Linked DNA regions of Homo sapiens: region 2 is linked to region 1. Evidence: fine-mapped expression QTL. A gene starts in region 1. The other region holds a variant in brackets. All regions are shown on one strand. Distances are between the middles of the regions. Region 1 holds the start of CYTL1 (cytokine like 1). Region 2 has its middle 25 kb from the start of CYTL1.

Region 1 (9,001 bases):
AATTATTATTATCCACCTCATGAGATGGGCACTACCATGTCCTCAGTTCAGGACTGAGGAAACTGTGCCTCAGAGGAGTGAAGGGACACTGCTGTGATTTGAATGTGGTCCCAAAAGTTTATGTGTTGGAAACTTAATCCCTCTGCCTTTGTAGGTGAATTAATGTAGGCTTTGACTTAATGAATGGATTAATGAGGGCTCTGCCCTTATGAATGGATTAACGTCACTACCTTGGGAGAGGGTTGCTTATTGCAGGGGTGGCTTTGTTAAAAAAGTGAACTCTCTCTGGCTCTTACCCTCTTGCTGAGTGATGACCTCTGCCATGGTATGATGCAGCAAGAAGGCCCTCACCAGATGCCAGCACCATGCTCTTAGACTACCCCCCAGCCTCCTCCATAAGCTAAACAAACATCTTTTTTTAAAAAATAACTGACCCAGTCTGTGGTGTTATGTTATAGCAGCAGAAACAGACTAAGACAGGCACTCCCACTTGGGAAGCAGGGAGATACAGACCCAAGCTCAGGGCTCTCTGATGCTGAAGTCTGTGCCCTGCAATCACATGCCTCTACTTTCCACATTTTAACTATTGCTGATTTTCTGTCCTTTTACCCTCTCCTACCGGAATCCTCTTATCAGAGCACACCTGAACCTCCTCCTGCAGAGTCTCCTCTACCCTGCCTCACTTGGCTCCTGGCAGAGTCTATCTATGTGGCTGGGGTGTGGTCCTGGGGTGTAGCCCCTGCATCAATGCGCAGCTCATGGAGACAAAGGGCCTTGTCCTGAACCCCATCACCCAACAAGGCAACCATGGTTGAGAAAGGGCTTTGTGAACTGAAAGCATCTGCGAAACATCTCTGCTCCTCTTCCTTGTCACCATCTCCTCCCAACTCTCCTCTTTGAAAAGCTCAGAAAGTCTTGGCTGATAGCAAGTAGAAAATAGACTTTCAATGGCATCCACTTACTCTCCTGCAGAACGAGTTCATGATGGTGTACAGCTTCCGTGCTTTGTCCTTCAAGGAATCTACCTGGGCCACTTTCCAACACGGGGGCGAGGCCACAAAGTCCCGCAGCTTGTCCAGCACACAGTAATTCTGGGAGTGGGCAATGGGGAGGGGGCTTGTGGGAGAAGTCAGTAGCAAGAGGAACAGGGACTGAGCTGCATAAGATCTCTCCCTGACTCTGTGCCACACAGCCAGCAGCAGAGGTTCAGACCTGAGTCCCTCAGCCCAAGACCTCCCTCCCCCAGGGAGAACCCTCTTACGTGTATGTCCAGGTACAGCCTGGGCAGGTATCTCACACATGGCTCCTGTGGAAAGGGATAAGGGGTTCTGGGATGCCCACAGGGGCATACCTGGTCACAAAAGTCTCCCTAGTGGCCCTCTCAACAGCCAGACCAGCCCAGATCCCTGGGGCCCTCCCTGATGCTACGACATGCACAGTACTTTCTTGTGTCATACGTCACACTCCTCCAGAAATGGGCGACTGCGCTTCCGGAATTAGACTTTTAGAATACAACTTTTATATCATTTGCTATGAACCAGGGAGCTGTTTTATATGCATACCCATTCAGAAATATACATACACGTATATACATAAAAGCAGTCCTATAACTGTAATATAGAAATAGTGATATATAATACAGTAATACAAGTATACATACAGAGTATATATGTACATCTATAAAACAGTTCTATAACTATTTAGTTATATAACAGTTGTATAAGTTAGTTATATAGTAACTTATATAATAATATACTTATATAATAACTTATATAAGTATATTAGCTATATAACAGTTGTATAACTGCATGTAATTATAGACATTATATATACTTACATAAGTACGATATATGTAATAATACCTATTGTTCTATAGGCATTCTATAGCTAATATGTAGTTGTATATAGTGTATAATATAGTAATATCGAAGTGCATAAATTTGCATACTTTTATATTTCTATATTGGGCTTCCGTTTTTGCGCAGGGCTGAAGGGCAAAAGCCCTCGTGCTCTGCCCTCTCAGTAATCCCCGTGTGACCATGGGCAAGTGCCTTCCTTCAGTCCTCAGTTGTGAAATTAGAGATTTAGAATGCATAATCTTTCCACTTTCTTCCCGCTCTGTGGTTCAGAGCCTCTGAACTTTTTAAACCTTTTAAAATCAGATTCCTTTAAAAGATGATTGCTGTCTATATTCGATAACAAGAAACTTGTGGGTAAATTGTGGTGAAACTGTACAACAAAATGTTAAAACAAAAATGAACTTATTTGATAGTGTCATTAAAAAGTAAGTTGCAAAACTGCTTGTGCTGTTTGACCCAAATTTTGTTTACACACACACACACACACAACACACACGTATTTGAATACCTATATGTAGACAGAAAGCTGAAATATGATCCTCCACAATGCTACGGCAGCAGCTACCTCTAGGTGGTAGAATTACAAGCAAGATTTTTTTTCTTCTTTGTACTTTATTTTCCAACTGTTCTACAAAGTACAATACTTTTATAATTAGGGAAAAAATACATGTTATTTAACTTTTAAAAAGAAAATACCAAGAAGGTGTTAGCTAGGCTTTTGTAAACCCCAACATCTGAGAAACATTATGTTTTGTTTGAAGCATTTGCAAGTGATTAAAAGACACTTTGAAACTTTACAAAAGCTTTTAATGAAGTTTAATGCATTTTGTTTCGACGGAGAAGCAGGCAGAGGCCTGGGTTCTAGTCCCCAAAAGCCCTCCCGGGTCTTCCCCTCTCTGAGTCCCCAGATCTGCCTCTGAAGATCGTGCTCACATCAGCTGGCATCTGTTGAGTACTTGTTCCTGTAGGCTTGGCTCTGTGAGCCCTGCCTGTGTTCACACCTGCCTTTGATCGTCAAAGCCACTCTAAAGGGAGGGGTGCTACTGTCATCCCATTTTACAGACAAGAAAACTGAAAGGCAGAGGCTGAGAAATTTGCCCGGGTCCCTCAGCAGATGAGGGGCGGAGGCCAGTTCTGTGAGCCACCTCTTAGGGCACACTCCTCACTAGGCTAACAAAAGCAATACACAAGCTTCATTCCTCCGTCCTCCTTAACTCTGATGGGGAGCTGTTTTTCTCCCCATCCTCCCACTCCTTTTTTTTTCTTTTTTCTTTTTTTTTTTTTTTTTTTTTTTTACATTTTACAACAGATCCTTTGATATTTGCTAGTAAGTCACAAAAATTGTGTTGTCTTTACTTTTTCTTGTGTTTTGAAGAAAGCAAACCATTGGTATCATATTTAAAAGGAGATGAATAAAACACAAATACTCCTGAGATTTACATTTACTAGAAAAGAAAAATATCCTTTTCTCTCTCTCTCTCTTTTTTTTTTCGTGTAAAGGCAAGGGTTTAAGAACTGGGTCTGCCATGCACCCCTGTCCTGAGCGGGCGGGGGACTCACCGAGGGCTCCGAGACCTGCAGGAGGTTGAAGTCGCGGGTGATCTCCTGGCTCAGGGCCCGCATGCGGGAGTAGCAGGTCGGGGGAGTGGGCCGCGCGGCGGGGGCTCCCGCCAGGAGCAGCAGCAGCACGGGCAGAGGCCCAGGCGTCCTCATGGTGCCAGGCGCTGGTGCAGCCTCGCCGACCGCCCCTTTATGCAGGCTGGGGGTGGTCCAGGGCGGCTCCACGCCTCCACTTCCTGTGGGGCCAGCGCAGGCTGCGGTCCATCCAGGGTGGCAGAGAGGAAGCCAGCACGCCCACCGGGCAGGGTCGGGACAGGAATCCTCTCAGACACGAAAGCCCCAGGTTAAGAGGAGGGGCTGCCTGGAGGAGGGGGTGACAGAGGGTGGCTTTGCCTCCCCCACACTTTCAGCAAGAAATTTCTTTCTGCACAGGGACTTTTCCTGAAAAGGCAGGAACAGCAGATGGAGAGGGGTGGGGGATAAGAGGAGGACAGAGATGGAAGGAGGGGAGGGTCAGAGGAGAGGAGTGGGCAGTCAGGCCTGGGTTTGGATGGCACGGTTTGTCAAAATGGATATAGTGCCAGGAGGGAAAGGGACTAGCAGGGGATGACTGAGCATCCCTCCCTCCAGGCAGCCCGCAGTGGAGCAGGGATGCAGAGCTGCGGTCAGGCCACCGGTGTCCTCGTCCATCAATCGCTAACCAGGTAGGTGAGCCTTGGGCCAGGGCCCCCAGCCTCTCAGAAGCCGTGTGTGTCTCTCGGTCCGGAGGATGGGCTCACTGAGCGGCCGTATGTGTGGGGAGTGTGAGTACCCCCACCCTCTTCTACCTCAAGCTCCCAGCACAGGCCCCGAGGGAGAGCAGACCCTCAGGAAGGGTTAGTTTTCAAGAAGTGCATCTCCCTCAGGGCTAACTTCCCAAGACAGTGGCAGGTAAAGGTCTAGGCTCTCCACTTAGACGCCGTGGGTGCAAAGCAGGGTCACCGCCTTCTGGCTTTGACCTTGGGCAAGTTTCTTCAGTGTTTCCTCCATCTCCTTATCTGTGAGATGAGGCTGGTGAGAGTGGCTCACTCAAAAGGCCATAGTGAGGAATCAACAGGATATAGCATGACTGAGCAAGCCTCATGCCAGGCCCATTGTGTGTTTCCAAGTGATCGGAGCTAATAGCACTGTCTCTGTTAAATCCAGCAATTGTCTCTGTGAGGTAGGTGCCACAGAAAAGAGTCCCATTTTCCAGGTGGGAAAACTGAGGCTCAAGAGTTCCAGCAACTTGCTGGAGGTCACAAAGCTGGAGGCACATGGGTTGGGATGAGACTTCAGGCCCTGTCCTCCTGCCATTCTTCCATCCCACAGGGCAGGATGGGTGAGGAGCAGGACTCTTGCAGGCAGAGATGAGTTGGGGTCCTCAGGCTGCCCAAGATCAGGCAACAAGCAAGAAGGAACTGTCAAAAGGGAGAAGATTCTTCCTTAACACTGAACATGACTTACATACCAGCAGCCACCAGGCCAGCTGCCATTGGGAACGCTATGACCCTCACAGCCAGCCAATGAAGTGAATGGGGTTATTCCCAATTCCCAGGCGAGGAAACTGAGGGCCTCGGGGGATGTGAAGCTGGGAAGAGCAGTGGAGCCCTGGAGCTATGTCTGGACTTTCCTGCCTCCAAAGCTTCCTCCAACAAAGGAGGAAAGGGGAGCATCCTGGGCAAGCTCCACATTCCCAGAACAAAACAACCAAAGATGCAGCCCACAGGGATGGGTGAACCAGAGCATGGCATCCTGGACACAGGGCTGGACTGAGGATCAACCACAGGGATGAAGCCCGGCTCCAGCTTGTCCCCACTGTATTTGCCAGGAGAAATCCCTTCTCGACCTGGCCTCCATTCCCTGTCTGTAAACAGGATAGCATCACGCTGGGCGATGTCTGAGGTTCCTTCCAGCCCCAGTGTTTTATTTATCTAGTTTCTGGTGGTAAAAGCCCTGGGCAGGGACTGTAAGCTGTGCCTTCCTGTTTTGTAGGTGAGAATGTGTTCTCTAAACACCTTTAGCAAGATGACATAGGGACCGCGGCCTTCGGGCAGAACTGTGTGTGCTTGGAGGTGGCAAGTGGAGGCACAGATGTGTTTTCTTCTGGGTGAAGGAGTCTCCACACTCCCTCCATGATAGTGCCTGGGGCATGGGCCTCCCTGGCAGAATAGCTGGCCCCAGCTGGGGACTCTAGGTCTGCTTTAAAATGCTCTAGGGCTTCTGGATGTGCTCAAGGAATGGGCTTAAATTCAGAGCAGGGAAGAAAAACAAGCCCATGGACCAAACAAGTCCTGCACCATTAGATCAAGGAGACATTGCTGTGCTGGAAAACAGGAGTCATTTGTGAGATAAATGTACTGCTGGGAGACTTGACCTTGTTCCACCCGCAATACCGTGTGTGGTTATTCATGGGACTTCTTGGGTAAATCAGCTGAGCTCAGAGCTGCAAAGAGGCTTATAGGCCTTCCCATTGAGCATGAGAATGAATGAGTAAGTGGCTGTAGCCATAAGCTGTCACTGGTACCAACTGAGATATGGTGGATGCTGGGCCCCTGAGGAGTCACAGTCAGTGGGGAGACAAGGAATGAGGCTGTTGTGCACTGGGCCAGGTGCAAGAGAATCGCCACCTCTCACTCTACCAAGCCAGGAGTGGGATGAATGGGAAGAACACCAGAGGAGAGGGTGCCTCGTGCTGATTCCCAGGGCAGGTGGAGACAAGGAGAAACAGCCTGTGCCGAGCCCAACACACACAAGCTTGCCTGCCGAGCCCAATGCATGCCAGTGTGCATCCGGGAATTCTATCTGCTTTCTGGCCCTCTCCAGGGTTCCTCCGCATCCTATGCATGATACATTGACTTGCCTCCTGGCATCTGTCTCCTTTAATGACCATGCCCTTCTCTAGGAGAGAAAGACAGTCTTTCTCATCTGTTTCTCGGCACCCAGCACGCAGCCAGGTAGAGCGGATGACCAGTAAGGTGTGGCTGAATGGACTTGGTGACTACTCGTGTTACTCAGAGATTAAGGCACAAGCCCACTAAGAAACCTACGCAGGACAGCCTGACGTGGCTCCCCACCAGGGGCTCCCTATGAGACGCCGCACTGGATACAGGCTGGTGGACCCCCGCACGTGTGTTCTGTTCTCAAATGTCTCCTTCACCACGAATCACCTGCATCCTCCCACCAGCTCTTTCTCTGCCCCCTTCTGAGGCTCCTTCAGCAGTTGGCTGCTCCGAATATTAAAAATCCAGGCAGGAATTTGCCCACAAATCAGGTAAGCCCTTGTCTCCGCCAAAAGGTCTCTTCTGGTTTTCTTAATGTCTTACATCGGGCACGGACCCCATCATGCAGGAGAGCTGAAGAGTCAGAGTTAACGAGCAGGTGAACATCTCTGAGGTAGATATCGGCCATTGCCTTTGGATGGGTTCTTCATTTGCCAGATGCATGTCTATCTATTTATCGAGAGTCTGTTGTGTGCCAGGCACTGAGATGGGTGAAAAGACAGTGAATGACAGAGTTGCTATCCTCTCGGAGGAGATTGATGAGGGCAGCTGACACTCTGGGTGAGTGGTGTGATGGCAGAAATCCTAGTGTTTCTGGAGCCCCTAACCCATCACTGGCAGCTGCTCCCTATCAGGTGAGAGCTGAGAGGTGACGAATGCAGTGGGGAAGCGGGGTAGGTATGAAGGCATGTGTGTGTGTGTGTGTGTATATGTGTGTGTTTGTGTGTGTCTCTGTGAAAGACAGAGAGTGAGGGAGATTGTAAGATATTGTGCTGCTGGCTTTGAAGATGGGAGAAGAGGCCACAAGCCAAGGAATTCAGGAGGCCTCTAGAATGCAAAGAAAGATTCCTGCCTAGGGCCTCCAAAACGGGCCCAGTTAGACCCCTTCTGAGCCCGGAATTGTAAGATCATAAATTCGTGATGCTTGGAGTCCCTCGGTTTGTGGTGATTTGTTACAGCAGCCACAGGAAACAAGCATACTGTCTCTCTGGGGTTTGGTAGAATAACAGAAATTAATGTGGGAACCTAGAAATTATCCAGATCTACCTGCCTGCTGCTTATCCTTCCTTTACAGTCTCCCTGTCAAGTGCTTGTCCAGAGTCTGCTTGCATACGTCCCTGGACAGGGAGCTCTTTGCCTCTTACAACTTCCTTCCAGTCTCTGGGCAGCTCCAAATTCTTCCCAGGGTGGAGATGAGATGCGATGACACCCTGGTGCAGGCCTTCAAATCCTGTACCTTCTTATGCAGAACGGAGGTGTGGCGATGTTAAGACCATTCTCATTCTTCAATGTCTCTACCTCCACTCCTCCCTGCCCCTCAAAACAGAGTCAACTCTCTTTTGGAGCTACCATCCCCACTTCGTGAACCCTTTTAATGAGAAGTGGCCTCAAGACCCTTCAATTACATCACGATTAACGCCTCTCTGTCTAGAGCCCTATCTCCTCCCGGTGGCCATTTCTAAAGCAGAAATTCAATCTTGCTCCTCCTTGTTTCAAAGTCTCCCTGGCTCCCAGACACAAACCCTGCTGTGTGTCCATGAGTCTTACACTATGTGGGACCCAGACTGGAACACAACCCTTCCTGGGAGATCTGGTCAGAATGAGGCTATCAGTTTTGAGCCTTTCCTATGTCAGTTAGGACTGTAGGCTGTGTGTTACAGAAAATTCAGCATGAGACACCAAAGTCTGGGTTTTCTGGAAAGTGCAATTTGAAAATATAGAGGGAATCTGGAGCTCAGGAATGGTTTGATCCAGGAACTCAATGAAGTCACTAAGGAATTATCTCTTTCTCTGTTCTATATTGTGATAGTGTTTTCATGTGTCATCTTGACTAGGCTACCATCCTCAGTTATTCTAACACTAATCCAGATGTTACTGTGATGGTATTTGTAGATGTAATTAGAGTCCTTATGCAATAAGCTCTATGTAAGGGAGATGATTTTAGATACTCTGGGTAGGCCTGATTTACTCAGTTGGAAGGTCTTAAGAGCACAGCCAAGGCTTCCCTGAGGAAGAAAGAGTTCTGCCTGTGGAGTAGCTTTGTCTGTTCTGGTGATTCCAGTTTGCACTTCCTGAAAGCCTACCCTACTACAATTTTGTACTTGGCCAATGTCCACAATCATGCAAGCCAATTCCTTGTACTAAATCTCTTAATATCTCTCTGCCACTGGTCATGCTTCTTGGGTTGAGCTCTAACTGACACATATACCATTAGCTCCATCCCAAAGCCAGGCCCTGTCCTGAGAAGTAGGGTCTCCCTTGTGACCACTGAAGAAAGTCCTGAGCTTTGTGCTGGAAGCGGACCCTGCCTATGCCCTGTCCAAGCCTCCTCAGCCCTGACATTTAAGGGCAGGTGGGCTAGGCTTCACCTGCCAGCACCACCCTCTGCGACAGGCCTTCCTCTGGCCATAGGTGCCTGTTCTGCCCACGTTAGAGCAAGCCAGAGTATTGGGGACTCTTAATGCCTCCCAGAAGTAGCCCTCAACCGATGATTCATGAAAGTTGGGAAGAGTCTGGCTTCTGGTTAAAAATCTGTATGTCATCCATGGGCAGTTACAACGG
Region 2 (9,001 bases), 26 kb before region 1:
CCACCGCTTTGGCCCCAACCCATGTTTTTACCACATTTTACTTTGCACATTTTCACAGCATTGTAACATGAAAATGAGGTTCTGCCCTTGTCTTGAGTTCCTGTTGGAAGGGGATGTTTTGCCTCCGCAAAGTTTTAGCCTCCTGGTGAGTGCTGGCTGGATCCAGGCTTGGTGTAGGGTGGTGAAAGAGCACTGGATAGGGGGTTAGATGACTAAGCCTGCTGTGTGACTTCCAGCTGGTTGCTTAACCTCTCTGGGCTGCACTTTCTTCCTCCATGATAGGAGAGGGCTGGATTGGGTTAGGGATGGCACAGTCAATGCCTCTAGGTGCCAGCAAGGTGATGTCCATGTGTGATGGCCCTGTGTAAAACACCCTCGACCTCCATGGGGTCAAGCCAGGGCTTGTGGCCTCCCATTCTTGTCCACATCCCGACATAAAAACTTAGGCATTTTTTTTCTTTTTTCCTGTAGAACCTCACAAGAATATTTTGGAAACAAGACAAAGAGGGAGGATGCTGTTGGCTGTAGCTCAGAGCTTCTCAACACAGGGCTGATTTGGGCCCTGATTTGGCCATGTCTGGGGCGTTTTTGGCTGTCATGACTGGGCCATCATCTGGTGATGCTGCTGACATCCTGTGGGTGGAGGCCGGGTCTGTGGCTAAACACCCCACAGTGCAAAGCCCCACCACCGACAAAGGACTAGGTGGCCCCAGACGCCCCCAGTGCCCAAGGCTGAGAGCCCTGCAGCAGGGCGGGGTTGGGTTGGATTTGGGAGTGGAGACTGGCTGGCCTGGGTGGGTCCCTGCCACTGGCTTGACACCCTGTGATGCAAAGCAGTGCCCGTGGAGCCTTGGATCGCTGGCTGTCAGCCACATGAGTCAGCAGGGCCCGAGCACAGCCTCCATGCTCTCTGGCTGTGATGGGCCTACAGACTGACCTTTGTCAAGGGCTGGAGAACCTCGGACGGCTGCCACCAAGCCCCAGGCAGAGCCTAAAGATTTGTCAGGGTTGGGGGTGGGGGACCAAAGATGCTGGTTAAGTGTTGAGGAGTGAGGAAGCCACAGTGACTAAGCCGCGCCTGGGCGCCGCGGGCTGATCCTAATGAAGCCTAGCCAGTCTCTCCTCCACAGTTTTGACACAGTTAGAAAAACTTTCTCTTGTTTAACTGGAAACAGCCACCCACACTCACCCTTTCACATACCAGTTGCCTTCTTGCAGATCATAGGAAATAAACTGACCTTTTAAAAAATCACAAGTGAAATATAAGGAAACAGAGTGAGCGGAGGCGTTTAGGGGTCTTGAATTCGGCCCACTGGGCAGGAGTGAGCAGGAGTGAGATATGTGAGGCTGTGTGAGTCCATCCTGCCTCCACTCTCTGTGCTCCCGTCTGTGGAGTGGGGCAGTGGACACGGGCTCCTCAAGCCTGCTGGCTCTCTCGGTTTAGGTGTCTCCTGACGGGAGTGGGAATCCGGGCAGGGGCGGGTGGCTGCTTCTCAGGGCCTTCTCACGGCTCCCTTCTCGGGACATTTCATTCACAGATTTGTGAATCTGCAGTTTTGGGAGGATGACTAAAGGTCACTTTGTCCAACCTCAAATGCAGATATGCCCTCTACTTTCTTCCCAAGAGGTAACATTGTCTCTCCTTGGTGGCTCCTGGGATGAGGGGCTTACTCCTATGCCCAGGCCAGCCAATTTCATTCCTGGACACCCCTGGACAGCTCTCGCTTCCGTGCGTGCTGTTTTTTTTTTCCTTTTTTCTTTTTTTTTTTTTTTTGAGACAGACTCCAGCCTCGCTCTGTCGCCCAGGCTGGAGTGCAGTGGTGCCATCACCACTCACTGCAACCTCGTCCTGCAGACTCAAGCGATCCTCCCACCTCAGCTGGGATTACAGGCATGTGTTACCACACCTGACTAATTTTTGTATTTTTAGTAGAGACAGAGTTTTGCCATGCTGCCCAAGCTGGTCTTGAACTCCTGGACGCAAGAGATCCTCCTGCCTCAGCCTCCCAAAGTGCTAGGGTTATGAGTGTGTGCCACTGTGCCTGGCCTCCATGCGTGCTCTTAATTCTACTTTTTGGCACCAACTGGAACAAAGCTAATAATCACCTCCAGCCCCAGATGGAAGCAAGGCACACAGCCACAGAGCTCTTGGGTATTTTTCTTTTCTTTTTTTTTTTTTTTTTTTTTTTTCGAGATGGAGTCTCACTCTGTCGCCCAGGCTGGAGTGCAGTGGAGTGATCTCAGCTCACTGCAAGCTCCACCTCCCGGGTTCACGCCATTCTCCTGCCTCAGCCTCCCGAGTAGCTGGGACTACAGGTGCCCGCCATTACGCACGGCTAATTTTTTGTATATTTAGTAGAGAAGGGGTTTCACCGTGTTAGCCAGGATGGTCTCGATCTCCTGACCTCATGATCCGCCCGCCTCGGCCTCCCAAAGTGCTGGGATTACAGGCTTAAGCCATCGTGCCCGGCCAGCTCTTGGGTATTTTATCTGTTCCAAGTCTTCCTAGTTTTAGGGTGAGCACCCCGAGATTCTTCATCTGACGCTCCTAGTGGCTATTTGGGTGTGTGTTTGGGGGTCCCTCCTCTTGGCACACACATCAGTGTTCACTCTGGGTTGGACTGCACGCTGGGACAGGTGCCGTGAGCTGTATCCAGGGGGCATCACCTCCCATATTCTGGCCGCTCTACTCCTATTGATGTGGTCCAGTACCATCCAAAGCATTTACAACAATATTAGCAAGGCCCTGTTAATTATTTTTAAGTGGGAATAAAACAGGTTTTCTAGGTCTTGAATCATATTTGTGGCTAACAATCCAAAAAACCATGGGGAAATGCCAGAAGAAAAAAGTGATTTAGGGACACAGGAGGTAGATTCCATTCCACTCATCCAGGTCATGGCCATATAAGATCCAGGAATCATGCCTGTCACTCCCCTGCCCTTCTACTGATTGTTCTGGTCCATAGGCTTCCCATCCCCCACCTGCCACCTCCTCTTCAGCCCTCCTGCTGCTGTCCCCCCACAGCCCATGGGCTCTCACCTGGACTAGTGCAGCAGCCTCCTGGGGGGCTCCCTGGATCCTCCAGCCTCCACACAGCAACCAGAGCAACCTTTCTAGAACACAAGAATGCTCACTCACCTCCCTGGTTTCCAACCCTTCCTGCCCAACCCCAACCTACCGCCACGTGGTCTGTACATTAAGCCCTGCCAAGCTTTTTTTTTTGTTTTTTGAGACAGAGTCTCGCTCCCTTGCTAGGCTGGAGTTCAGTGGTGTGATCTCGGCTCACTGCAACCTCCGCCTCCTGAGTTCAAGCGATTGTCCTGCCTCAGCCTCCCGAGTAGCTGGGACTACAGGCACGTGCCACCATGCCCAGCTAATTTTTTGTATTTTTAGTAGAGATGGGGTCTCATCGTGTTAGCCAGGATGGTCTCCATCTCCTGACCTCGTGATCCACCCGCCTCAGCCTCCCAAAGTGCTGGGATTACAGGTGTGAGCCACCGCACCCAGCCCACCCAAGCTTTTCAATGCAGAGCTTGCTTTTAATGCGAAGTCGTGTGCCAAGTGACCACCTGTCTTCCTCCTCCTTTTCTCTCCTGGGTCCCTGGACTCCCACACCCTTGGTCCCAGCCACCCTGGTGACCCTGCTCCCTTTCTATGCACCTTTCTGTGACTTCTACACTTGCTGCTTCCTGGCTTGGACATCGCCTCACCCGGGAAAACTCCTATTTATTTCCAATCCCAGTTTCTATGTCCTCCTGCCCGTCCCCACCCCCCAAGAGCCTTGCTGAGGTTAGGAAACTATGAGAAAGGGATTTCTGTGCCCCACAGCAGTGAGGACACCCGCCCTTGGTCATTTCATATTCGATGTTAGCTCAGAGAAACAATACTAGGAGATAACATTTGCCAACCCCCCCGCCCAAGATTCACTCGCTGATACTAATCCAAACTTGTTCACTCACGTGTTTGTTTAATTAACAAATATTTATCGAGCACCTGCAATGAGTTATGTACTATAATAGATGCTAGGGCACAGTCAGGGATGAAACAGACAGAAGTCCTTGTCTCCATGGAGCTGACATTCTGGTTGGGGGAGGCAGCCATTAGGTGAAATGAATAAGTAAACTGTAGACTGTAATAGCAACAGGTGTGGCGGAGAAGAATGAAGTGGAGATGGAGTTGTCAGGTGAGAGCTGCAATTTGAAATTGAAATTCCAGGGAGGATACACAGAGGGAAAACCTGAAGTTGAGGACGTCAGGTGAGCTGCTACCTGGGGGCAGGGAGCTCCCGGGGAAGGCTTGTACGTTCCAGGACAGGCATCTGGGCGCTGTGTGGCTGCATTGTGGTGGGCTGGGGAGAGGTAGGTCCTGAGACCTGAGAGGTGACAGCCCAAAATCCTGTAGGATCCCAGAGGCCATAGCTGGGACTCAGCTTTTCCTCCAGGTGGGCTGGAAAGCACTGGAGGGTGGTGGACAGAGGATGGCGTGGTCGGATTGCAGCGGGATTCCGTGCGTCCCCTGGCTGCCCTGTGCAGAAGGAAAGGTGCAGCGCAAGGCGGGAGCCGGGAGAACAGGGAGAGAGGCTGGAGGCTTGGTCCAGGCTGGGGGCAGTGGGAACAGCGAGCAGGCGCTGGATCTGGGACATAGTCATGGTGCTCAGCTGCTGCAAGGAAGTCATTTTATTTTTAGCCCAGTTATAACGATGAATGAAGTAGGGATGCAGAAAGGTTAAGGTCACTTTGCTAAAAGGCGCTATGTGTGGCGCCCACCCAACCCATGCACCTATCCCTCTCCAGGAGTGAGTCTCCCATGGGCAGGCATGTGCCCCTCACTGGGCACACTGGGTCCTGACACGCAGTGGGAACTCAGCGCTGTTAAATGTGGATTTCACTGAGCCCCACAGGCAGCCCTTTAGGACCTCGGCCCAAGGTCATTCTGGCCAAAGGCCGCTAGA[G/A]GGCAGCGGTGCTTTTCCCTCTGCATGAAGTTTGGGACAACGTCCGCAGTCAGCCTCGTCTGGTCCCAGGTCACCACTGAGGGCCTTGCAACTTAAGGGACAGGAACACGATCGGTGAGCACCACCAACCCCAACCCCTTGCCCAAGCCAGGGGAAAGGACCCAGGAGGGAGGCTGGACAGGGCCGTGGAGAACCACAGCATGATCCCCTCCTGGGTCCCCTACTTACACCTGGGAAAGCAGGCAGAGAAGGAGGAAGGGGTTTGCCTAGGTTACCCCGGGGACTCGCTGCTAGACCCACACCAGCCCTTCTCCCAGGCGACCTTTCCTGTGACCCCAGGGACTTCCGTCAGCACAGCTGACCCTGGAAGGCTGTGGGGTTGGGTGTGCTGGGTGCACCAGGTTAGATCAGTGTCCTGAGAACGTCCCTCTGGGTGGAGGAGAGGTGGGTGCAGGGGCCCCGAACAGTCGGAGAGGAACCTGGCTGAAGCAGCCTGCTGGCAGGTCCTGGCCTACGTTTTATGCCCAGACTGGAGGGCAATAATTGTGAAAGGCAAACAATGTTAAGTTTCTCAGCTTCAGTTATTGGTGGCATTAACGAGCATAGATCGATTTTTAAGAATCTACATACCACTGCAACTTGACCTTGGAGAATCGTTAATCACTTTAGAAATGCACATAGAGAGGTCACACTGATGCTTTGTGTAAAAAATCCCCGCCTAAATAGTTGCTAGCAGAGAACCTCATTTGCAAGCGTAAATCTGTTTATAATTAATCACGTTTGGCAAGGCTCCCCCTCCACAGCCTGGCTGGCTTCGGGGCCTCTGGCTTTTGCTGTCGATGCTCATGCTCGATGTATCCAGGCCAAGCTTTCACTCTTCCCCTGAGCTATACCACATTTTCCCTGACCCTTTTCCTGAGAGGCAATGCCTGTCCAGGCCCTGCTCAGGCTCAATCTGTCTGCCGCCAGCCTTGCCTCCCTGCTTCCCGGGGGCACCCTCCTGAGGACAGTTGCTACCATCGGTGGTGAACCATTGGTGTGTGCCAGCCTCTTCTCCAAATGTTCTCCACGAAATAACTTACATGGCTCTTCACGCAACTCTATTCAGTAGGTATTATTATGAACCCCATTTTACAGATGTGGAAACTGAAGCCAAGAGATGCTTCGAGGAGTCAGCGTCAGGATTTAAACCCAGACTTCTGGTTCAATTTAAACCCAGTTTTGTCCTAATGCTCTCCCTCCCCTTGCTCTCCACCCACTGACAGGCCCCAGGCCCCGGTGTGTGATGTTCCCCTCCCTGTGTCCATGTGTTCTCATTGTTCAACTCCCACTTATGAGTGAGAACATGTGGTGTTCGGTTTTCTGTTCCAGTGTTAGTTTGCTGAGGATGATGGCTTCCAGCTTCATCCATGTCCCTGCAAAGGACATGATCTCATTCTTTTTTATGTCTGCCTAGTATTTCATGGTGTATATGTGCCACATTTTCTTTATCCAGTCTATTATTGATGGGCATTTGGGTTGGTTCCAAGTCTTCGCTATTGAAAATAGTACTGCAATAAACATACGTGTGCATGTGTCTTTATAGTAGAATGATTTATAATCCTTTGGGTATATATCAAGTAATGGGATTGCCGGGCCAAATGGTATTTCTGGTTCTAGATCCTTGAGGAACCACCACACTGTCTTCCACAATGGTTGAACTAGTTTACACTCCCACAAGCAGTGTAAAAGTGTTCCTATTTCTCCACAGCCTCAACAGCATTTATTGTTTCCTGACTTTTTAATAATCGCCATTCTGACTGGCTTGAGATGGTATCTCATTGTGGTTTTGATTTGCATTTCTCAGTGATGATGAGCTTTTCTTCACATTTTTCTTGGTCACATAAATGTCTTCTTTTGAGAAGTGCCTGCTCATATCCTTTGCCCACATTTTGAATTTTTTTTTTCTTGTGAATTTGTTTAAGTTCCTTGTAGACTCTGGATATTAGACCTTTGTCAGATGGGTAGATTGCAAACTTTTTCTCCCATTCTGCAGGTTGCCTCTTCACTATGATGCTAGTTTCTGTTGCTGTCCAGAAGCTCTTTAGTTTAATTAGATCCCATTTGTCAATTTTGGCTTTTGTTGCAATTGCTTTTGGTGTTTTAGTCATGAAGTCTTTGCCGATGTCTATGTCCTGAATGGTATTGCCTAGGTTTTCTTCAAGGCTTTTATGATTTTTAGTTTTACATTTAAGTCCTTAACCCATCTCAAGTTAATTTTTGTATAGGGTGTAAGGAAGGTGTCCAGTTTCAGTTTTCTGCATATGGCTAGCCAGTTTTCCCAGCACCATTTATTAAATAGGGACTCCTTTCCCCATTGCTTGTTTTAGTCAGGTTTGTTGAAGATCAGATGCTTGTAGGTGTGAGGTGTTATTTCTGAGGTATCTATTCTGTTTCATTTGTCTATATGACTGTTTTGGTACCAATACCATGCTACTTTGGTTACTGTAGCCTTGTAGTATAGTTTGAAGTCAGGTAGTGTGATGCCTCCAGCTTTGTTCTTTTTGCTTAGGATTGTCTTGGCTATATGGGCTCTTTTTGGGTTCCATATGAAATTTAAAGTAGGTTTTTCTAATTCTGTGAAGAAAGTCGATAGCTTGATGGGAATAGCATTGAATCTATAAGTTACTTTGGGCAGTATGGCCATTTTCATGATATTGATTCTTCCTATCCACAAGCATGGAATTTTTTTTCCATTTGTTTGTGTCCTCTCATTTCCTTGAGCAGTGGTTTGTAGTTTTCCTTGAAGAGGTCCTTCACATTCCTTGTAAGTTGTATTCCTAGATATTTTATTCTCTTTGTAGCAATTGTGAATGGGAGTTCACTCATGATTTGGCTCTCTGTTTGTCTATTATTGGTATATAGGAATGCTTGTGATTTTTGCACATTGATTTTGTATCCTGAGACTTTGCCGAAGTTGCTTATCAGCTTAAGCCGTTTTGGGGCAGAGACAATGGGGTTTTCTAAATACAGAATCATGCCATCTGCAAACAGAAACGATTTGACTTCCCCTCTTCCTATTTGAATACCCTTTATTTCTTTCTCTTGCCTGATTGCCCTGGCCAGAACTTCCAATACTATGTTGAATAGGAGTGGCGAGAGAAGGCATCCTTACGCCAGTTTTCAAAGGGAATGCTTCCAGCTTTGGCCTATTCAGTATGATATTGGCTATGGGTTTGTCATAAATAGCTCTTATTATTTTGAGATATGCTCCATCAATGCCTAGTATATTGAGAGTTTTTAAAATGAAGGAATGTTGAATTTTATCGAAGGCCTTTTCTGCATCTGCTGAGATAATCATGTGGTTTTTGTCATTGGTTCTGTTTATCTGATGGATTACATTTATTGATTTGCATATGTTGAACCAGCCTTGCATCCCAGGGATGAAGCCAACTTGATTGTAGTGGATAAGCTTTTTGATGTACTGCTGGATTTGGTTTGCCAGTATTTTATTGAGGATTTTTGCATCAATTTTCATCGGGGATATTGGCCTGAAGTTTTCTTTTTTTGTTGTGTCTCTCCCCAGTTTTGGTATCAGGATGATGCTGGCCTCATAAAATGAGTTAGGGAGGAGTCCCTCTTTTTCAATTGTTTGGAATAGTTTCAGAAGGAATGGTACCAGCTCCTCTTTGTACCTCTGGTAGAATTTGGCTGTGAATCCGTCTGGTTCTGGGCTTTTTTGTGTTGGTAGGCTATTAATTACTACCTCAGTTTCAGAACTTGTTATTGGTCTATTCATGGATTCAACTTCTCCTGGTTTAGTCTTGGGAGGGTGTATGTATCCAGAAATTTATCCATTTCTTCTATATTTTCTAGTTTATCTGCATAGAGGTGTTTATAGAATTCTCTGGTGGTAGTTTGTATTTCTGTGGGATCAGTGGTGATATCCCCTTTATCATTTTTATTGTGTCTATATCATTCTTCTCTCTCTATTTCTTTATTAGTCTAGCTACCAGTCTATTTTGTTAATTAAAAAAGAACAGTTCCTGGATTCATTGATTTTTTGAAGG

Evidence for each region.
Region 2: its variant is fine-mapped to the expression of CYTL1 in whole blood (TOPMed, PIP 0.97).

What each region holds. Positions count from the first base shown.
Region 1 is chr4:5,015,874-5,024,874 of GRCh38, forward strand. CYTL1 (cytokine like 1) reads right to left here and starts at 3,585. Exons shown (of 4, transcript NM_018659.3): 1 at 3,420-3,585; 2 at 1,262-1,306; 3 at 963-1,091. The coding sequence starts at 3,572. It also overlaps a transcript of STK32B not described here.
Region 2 is chr4:4,990,346-4,999,346 of GRCh38, forward strand. No RefSeq gene overlaps it. Among named protein-coding and RNA genes, the nearest start is that of CYTL1, 25 kb to the right of the region's middle. RefSeq lists an enhancer at 4,985-5,134. The variant G/A (reference allele first, on the strand shown) is at 4,953.